Homo sapiens: one gene and its partner. The protein of the gene in region 1 interacts with the protein of each later gene in a pairwise test. Each region holds a gene or a part of one and is shown in the gene's direction. Other genes may lie near its edges.

What was found.
Region 2: the proteins of MKRN1 (region 1) and SLC13A1 interact in a protein complementation assay, tested with the Homo sapiens proteins (one large-scale study listed by BioGRID).

The regions. Positions count from the first base shown.
Region 1 is NC_000007.14:140,469,270-140,473,087, reverse strand, and holds part of MKRN1 (E3 ubiquitin-protein ligase makorin-1), read left to right. Parts: intron 1-1,076; coding exon 1,077-1,205; intron 1,206-3,818. UniProt on the Homo sapiens protein: E3 ubiquitin ligase catalyzing the covalent attachment of ubiquitin moieties onto substrate proteins. These substrates include FILIP1, p53/TP53, CDKN1A and TERT.
Region 2 is NC_000007.14:123,197,165-123,201,603, reverse strand, and holds the start of SLC13A1 (solute carrier family 13 member 1), read left to right. Parts: upstream 1-1,634; 5' UTR 1,635-1,657; coding exon 1,658-1,756; intron 1,757-4,439. UniProt on the Homo sapiens protein: Sodium:sulfate symporter that mediates sulfate reabsorption in the kidney and small intestine. Can also mediate the transport of selenate and thiosulfate.

The DNA.
Region 1 (3,818 bases):
TCTCTCTGTTGTCCAGGCTGGAGCGCAGTGGCTCAATGGCACGATCTCGGCTCACTGCAATCCCTGCCTCAGCCTCCCGAGTAGTTGGGATTACAGGTGCCTGCCACCATGCCCGGCTAATTTTTTGTACTTTTAGTAGAGATGGGGTTTCACCATATTAGCCAGGATGGTCTTGATCTCCTGACCTCGTGATCCATCCGCCTTGGCCTCCCAAAGTGCTGGGATTACAGGTGTGGGCCACCACGCCTGGCCCTTTTTTTTTCTTTTTGTTATGTAAGTTAAACAGTTTTCATAATCTAAGGCGTATTATTATTACATTTTTTTGAGACAGAGTCATAGTCGTGCTCCATCACCCAGGCTGGAATGTCAAAATAGTTCGTTGTAACAATGCAAAAACAAGGGCCAGGCGCAGTGGCTCACGCTTGTAATCTCAGCACTTTGGGAGGCCGAGGTGGGCAGATCACAAGGTCAGGAGATCGAGACCATCCTGGCTAACATGGTGAAACCCTGTCTCTACTAAAAATACAAGAAATTAGCCGGGCGTGGTGGCGGCGCCTGTAGTCCCAGCTACAAAGCAAAAACACAATGCAAAAACGGACTAATACACTTGCTTTACTCCTGTTTTCTTATCACCTTCTTTTTATTTTTTTTTTTTGAAATGGAGTCTTGCTCTGTCTCCCAGGCTGGAGTGCAATGGCGCGATCTCGGCTCATTGAAACCTCAGCCTCCCACGTGTAAGCAGTTCTCCTGCCTCAGCCTCCTGAGTAGCTGGGATTAACATGTGTGCCACCACACCAGCCAATTTTTGTATTTTTAGTAGAGACGGGGTTTCACCATGTTGCCCAGGCTGGTCTCGAACCGCTGGTCTTAGACCCCTGACCTCAGGTGAGCCACTCACCTCAGCCTCCCAAAGGTACTGGGATTACAGGCATGAGCCACCATGCCTGGCCCTTTCTTTGTGTTTATTTCGTATGTTTGTGTATTTACTGGTTGAATATATTAGTCATGAATACTAATTAGTTTTAATATTTTCAAGGATTGGTTTTAATCCAGTTTTGTGGTCTTTCGTCTCACAGGTATTTTATGCATGGGGTTTGTAAGGAAGGAGACAACTGTCGCTACTCGCATGACCTCTCTGACAGTCCGTATAGTGTAGTGTGCAAGTATTTTCAGCGAGGGTACTGTATTTATGGAGACCGCTGCAGGTAAGAATTTGTTTATAAATTTGTTCAGGGGTGGGTTGGAGGAAAAAGGTAAAAGACATACTTCTGATAGCTTTATATGTCACTGATTAAAAATAATGCTTTGAAAATGACTCTTGGCTGGGCAGTGGCTCATGCCTATAATCCCAGCACTTTGGGATGCTTAGGTAGGAGGATTGCTTGATCTTGGAAGTTTGAGACCAGCCTGGGTAACCTAGTGAGACCTCATGTCTACAAAATATAGAAAAATTAGCTGGGCATGGTGGTGTGCGTCTGTAATCCCAGCTACTTCGGAGGCTGAAGCAGGAGAATTGCATGAACCCGGGAGGTGGATGTTGCACTGAGCCAAGAGCCCGCCACTGCGCTCCAGCCTGGGCAACAGAGCGAGACTCCACCTTAAAAAAAAATTGGGTAGGGCTTTTCTATCCTCCTAGTTCAGAAATGACTAGGTGTATTATCTGTGGATGTTAAACAAGTAACCCTCAAATTTATTTTTTATTTATTTTTTTGAGACAGGGTCTTACTGTGTTGCCCAGGCTGGAGTGCAGTGGTGTGGTCACTTCTCACTGCAGCCTCAACTTACCAGGCTGAAATGATCCTCTCACCTCAGCCTCCCAAGTAGCTGGGACCACAGGGATGCACCACCTCATTTATTTAGTTTTTTGTAGAGATGGGGGTCTTAATATGTTGCGTAGGCTGGTCTCAGATTCCTGGGCTCAAGCAATCTTCCTGCCTTGGCCTCCGAAAAGTGTTGGGATTACAAGCATGAGCCCCAGAAACTGGCCCATCCCCAAATTTAGTAGGTTAAAACAGTGAACATTTATTATCTCAGTTTCTGGGGTTCCGGATTCTGTGAGTGCCTTAGCTGGATGGTTCTATCTCAGAGACACTTATGAGATGGCAGTCAAAATTTTAGCAAGTCATCTGAAGACTTGATGGGGACTCCAGGATATTTTTTGTGTGTGTGAGACCGAGTCTTGTCCCTCTGTTGCCCAGGCTGGAGTGCAGTGGCAAGATCTCGGCTCACTGCAACCTCTGCCTCCCAGATTCAAGCAATTCTCCTGCCTCAGTTTCCCAAGTAGATGGGATTACATCTGCGTGCCACTATGCCCGGCTAATTTTTTATATTTTTGGCAGAGACAGGGTTTCATCATGTTGGCCAGGCTAGTCTCGAACTCCTGACCTCAAGTGATCTGCCCACCTCGGCCTCCCAGAGTGCTGGGATTACAGGTGTGAGACACAGTGCCCAGCCAGCATTGTTTTTTGTTTGTTTGTTTGGGTTTTTTTGTTTGTTTTGTTTAGGATGGAGTCTTGCTCTTGTCGCCCAGGCTGGAGTGCAGTGGCGCAATTTCGGCTCACTGCAACCTCCGCCTCCTGGGTTCAAGCGATTCTCCTGCCTCATCTTCCGGAGTAGCTGGGATTACAGGCGCCCGCCACCACACCTAGCTAATTTTTGTATTTTTAGTAGAGACGGAGTTTCACCATGTTGGCCAGGCTGGTCTCGAACTCCTGACCTCAGGTGATCCACGCGGTTCGGCTTCCCAAAGTGCTGAGATTACAGCCGTGAGCCATGGTGCCTAGCCCAGTATTGTTTTTAAGAGGTCTTACTCTCATGACTGTTGGCAGGAGACTTTGGTTTCTCACCACTTGGCCTTTTTTTTTTTTCAAGACGGAGTTTTGCTGGTCACCCAGGCTGGAGTGCAATGGCATGATCTCAGCTCACTGCAACCTCTGCCTCCCGCGTTCGAGAGATTCTCCTGCCTTGGCCTCCAGAGTAGCTAGGATTACAAGCATGCACCACCACACCTGGCTAATTTTTTTTTTTTTTTTTTTTTTTTTGAGACAGAGCCTAGCTCTGTCGCCAGGCTGGAGTTCAGTGGCACAGCCTCAGCTCACTGCAACCTCCACCTCCCAGGTTCAAGTGATTCTCCTGCCTCAGCCTCCCGAGTAGCTGGGATTACAGGCATGCACCGCCACACTCAGCTAATTTTTGTATTTTTAGTAGAGATGGGGTTTCACCTTGTTGAAAGGATGGTCTTGATCTCCTGACCAGCCCACACCAGCCTCCCAAAGTGCTGGGATTGTAGGCATGAGCCACCGCGCCCGGCCCACACCCCACTAACTTTTGTATTTTTAGTAGAGACGGGGTTTCACTATGTTGGCCAGGCTGGTCTCAAATTCCTGAGCTCAGGCAGTCCACCTGCCTTTGCCTCCCAAAGCGCTGGGATTACAGGCGTGAGCCACCCCGCCTGGCCCACATGGGCCTTTTCATAGGGATACTTTAGTATCCTTGCAGCTTGGCAGCTAGCTTTCCCCAGAGCAAACAATTTAACAGAGGAGGCAAGGAAAAGCCACAATGCCTTTTATGACCTAGTGTCAGAAGTCATATACTGTTATTTCCACTGATTCTGGACTAAGTTACTAAGTCCAGCCCACATGTAAAGGGAGAGGATTGGGCTCTACCTTTTGAAGGAAGGCATATCAAAGAGTTTTGTATGTACTTTAAACCACTACCCTCGGTAAGACTTTTGACAGTGTCATAGTAAATTTTTTTTTTTTTTTGAGATGGAGTCTCGCTGTCACCCAGGCTGGAGTGCGGTGGTGGGATCTCAGCTC
Region 2 (4,439 bases), about 17 Mb from region 1:
TTCCTTTAAATGTCACACAAATGCCTTTTCGTTTTTTGGTGTCATCTCACAAAGTAAAATCCTCTAAGATGAAAAAGTGAGGCTCAAATCATCTCACCAGGTAGCTGAAGGAAATCTGAGAGCAAAAATGGTTTCTTCAAAAAGTAGTAGTTTAAAAAAAAGCATGCAATGAACTAGAGAACTGTACAGGGTGTTAATGGAAAAAAATAAGTACTACAACTGGTTTGAGTAAATCAGTTCATAAATTAATTTTAACACTATATACTATTGTTACCTATTTATTATCACTTACCATTTTATTACAATATCATTTGTAATTATCCTTTCATCTAAGAAATTTAAGATATAATAAGACTTTCTGGTTTGGAAACTTTTTTTCTGTTTACTATTCTGATTTTCCTGAATAACTGTCCATAATAGATGTTTAGGAATTTAAATTTTTTACAGGAAAAAAATGCTTTCTCATTTACATTAATATGGTGAGTACTGGTGAGAGAATTGTTTCTCTTGATGGAAAGAGAATGCAGAGTTATATTAGTATGAAGTTAGAAATAAGACCTAAATGCTAACTATAGATTACATAAGAGTAAGGTTATCTATGTCAAGAGATATTGACTATAAATTCTAGTAGGGCTGGGAATGTGTTTCATTTATATCTAAAGACAAGTAGTAGTTGCTAACTTGAGGTTTACTGGATCATCAATTTACAACACAACGTGAAAAAAACCAGGGTCCTTATCCCTGAAGATTTTCAAAATACATCCTCCATATCACTGTTGGAACAGTCTCCAACTTCCCATGTGCTCATGTGCACAAACCATACACACACACACATCACACACCACTTGAATGTCCCTAATCACTCATCTTTATGCAGATTCCCTGATAATTATGTAGTCTGTATCAGCACAACAGTATCAAATCAAGCCTTCAAAGGTCTTAAAATAGAGGGTTTATATAACACTTCATGGTTATTTTGGTTTTCTATCAAAAGAGACAATAGGGTCCAAGAAATACACAAAACTTTGCTTCTAACCAACAGGGACATTTGCTATAAATTTTGTAGAAGACCCTTGCAATACATTGTCCAAGAAGTCCGTTAAAAATCCATCTCTAAACAAAAAAGTTTCCCTTTCACTGTCATACACTGAAATTCCAACTATTAGTTGCTATTTCAATTTACACACTGAAAACATACTTCCTTAGAAAGGGCCATGGAGGCTGCCTGTGGAGACTCACTCATGGCACCATGACAATGTGGTAACTACTCCAGTTAGGGAGTCTGGAAGTCAGAGGACATCAAAAGGGTTGGAAGTGCCTCATTGTGAACAAACAACCAGCTTCATGGTTTTGCCTTCTCCTAGGCTTGTCCAGTCTGTATTTCAGTGAATGTGATCAAAGAAAGCAGGGAAAGAACAGTTTTTCCTTGAAAACCCAGAGGAGCAAATGGTCTTTGATTTCTCATGAAAAGTCTTGGGCCTATCTCTTCATGTTAATTGTGATAGTAAAACAATAAAAAATGAGATTTAATTTTAACTTGTGTTGGTCGGTCTAGGGCAGTGAGTGAAGGTGACAGGCTGGAAAAATATTAATCCAAGTTGGTTATTTAACATCTGCTTTATTTGGAGGACACTATTGAAGCCACCTGCTCAGGACAATGAAATTCTTCAGTTACATTCTGGTTTATCGCCGATTTCTCTTCGTGGTTTTCACTGTGTTGGTTTTACTACCTCTGCCCATCGTCCTCCACACCAAGGTGAGTGAACCTGGAGAACAGACTGGTGGATTTCCTGACTTATTTAATTGTCCTTTATTAAAACTGTTTGCTGTTTAACTGCCTGGCTCAGAGCTGAATGAATGTTGACCCTTCATACCTAAAGTCAGGATGGTTGTACATGATGTTTTGGCCATTTTCTCCCTTTTTAATAATTAACATTGGTTGATTCTTAGTATGATTAAACATAATTAAATAGAATATTCAATCAGAATTGTTCTCTGCCTATCAACTAGATGAGAGGAAGAACAAAAGAAGCACAACCTTTGAGATTTTGCAGTTCAAGTTGTCATTCTCCAGGGAGCATGCATGGCTAGTGCAATGCCTTCCCCTGAGAATAGGCAGCAAAGCAATTGCTGGGGACAGAGGTGGAAGAACAAGGGAAATCCTAGGTCCAGCACAGACTAATTTACTTCTCAGCTCTGTGGCTTTGTCACAGAACTTCCTGGAAATTTAGTTCCCTTGTAGGAAAAGAAGACATTGAAAGCTTAGAGTAATTTCCCTTGGTCAATCAGAAAATCTAATAAAGCATTTACCATGTTCTGATAATTCCAGGTTTTGTTTCATTGTGGTGTACTTGTAAGCATTTTTGTTTGCTTTTTAAGAGTAGTCAGGGCATTAAGTCCAGAACAATAAGCTCAAGCATGTTTAATTTCTTGGTAAAATGATTTGAATCAGCAAACATTTAATGAGCACCTTCTCTGTGCCAGGCACAAACGTCACTTGGTAGTAAGAGGACAGGCTTTGGAGCCAGATTCTCTGCTTCAGGTCCCAGATTTACCACTTACAAACTGTGTCACCTGGGCATGCTACTTAATGTCTCTGTGCTTCTGTTTTCTCATATGAAAGATGTGTATAGTAGCAGGCTTGTTGTGAGAATGAAATGAAGAAACACTCTTCAAACACTTATTTGGAGCAGTGCCTGGCACACAGTAAGTGTGCAGTGCCAGTCTCCTTGGGTGTGTTGACTCCACAGGTGGGGCAATTCCCAGCACTCCATTATGCACAGTCCCTCCTCTTAATGGGCAAGAACCCTGCTGATGCTCTCCTCTAACAAGTACTAATCGAGGTTACACCAGTCTGGGTTATAATAGAATCATATTAACTATAATATGGTGGTCCCTCCAGCCTCTGCCAGAAGCCTTTGCCAGTGATCCTGGGACCTCTGAAGGGAATTCATGTGAGCTAATAAAGTCCTTTTGGACACTGTCAAGGCCTATCCTACCTGCAAAGCTGGAGAAGGGACTGGCCCCTGCTGTGGCATCTGTGGGTTGTCTCCCACCAGGTGCAATCTTCTAGCTGCAGCATTCTTGGCTTATCTCTCCTTGTGCTGAGGTCTCACAGAGCTACATGGAGGGAAGGGAAAAACTCCCCACCCCTTTTGGTCCAAATTTCTAAGCCCTCAAATTCGTACAGAATTTGTAAATAATAATAATAACTAAAAGACCTTGTCAGCTGTTTTTGGCTTTGTTGGTTTTGTTTTTCAAATTCTGTGTGACTAACCCTTTCCCTCCCACCCTGCCACTCCCACCCCGGCTCCTTGTGAGGTCTCCTATATGAATCTCTGGCAGCCCCATCAGATGACAAATTCCAGCACAGAAATAGTGCTCTATTCTGAATTCTCACCCCATCTCCTTGCCAAGAACTTCATCTAAGACACATTATGATCTTCACTTTGCAACTCTCCTGGTCCCATGAGTCCTCTAGATTTGGCTGAATCCTATCATGACCATATCCTGCTTCATACCTGGAGCCCTGCTATATTTTAATATTTTTGAGTTAGTCTCAGCATACATTCTTACTTATGGCAGAGAAAGTAGGAAATTAAACTAGTCAAGACAAATTTAGGTCATTACCACATATCATCTGTGCTGCTCTTTTTACATATAAATGCATGACAATTTGATTATCCTCCATAATTTTCTGAGAAATGAATATAAACTCTTTGAAAAACAAAATGAGTAAATAAATCAAAAGCAATCATTTTAGTACATGATTCATTCACTGGGAAGTGTATTATTTTTAAGAAATGCAGCCACTGATTATTTTTTCCAAGGTGCTATGACAAAAGAACATTAGGTCCATGCAGGAACCAGGTGTCTGGCACCAAGTTGCATCTGGTGAGCTGGTTCCTCTTTCCTTTCCTCCTAATCAACTCATTTGTTAAAACTCAATTAATGTTAATGGAGGATTTATTCCTAGTATAATAACATGATATTATTTTTTGGCCACTTTAAACATATATTTAATCATTCAATAAACTGCTAATTAAACTGAAAGACTATTATTTTAACTTGCTTACAATGAAAGCAAATTATTTTTTTAAAGAATGTAGGCCTTTGGAGGGTATAAAATTTAAGGAGAAGTTTACTTTAACATAAATGCAAGTCAATTTACTGTTAACTTTTAGGTTACCAAACTGAAGAAGTCTATGCTTCTAAAGACACAATATTAGATTAATTAAAACATTCAATGGAAACAAAAATCCAAGTTTCTCTTTCAAAACCACAATTATAAAAAATAATTCCATGTGGGGCTATAATCTACAGGATGTAGAGCCAACAAACAATGAATTATTGACTGATTTCTTTCCTTCATTTTCCTGCTTGTTATTGAGTTGTTCAATAGACTGGCCTTAACTTATGTCTTAATTCCATCTAAAGTG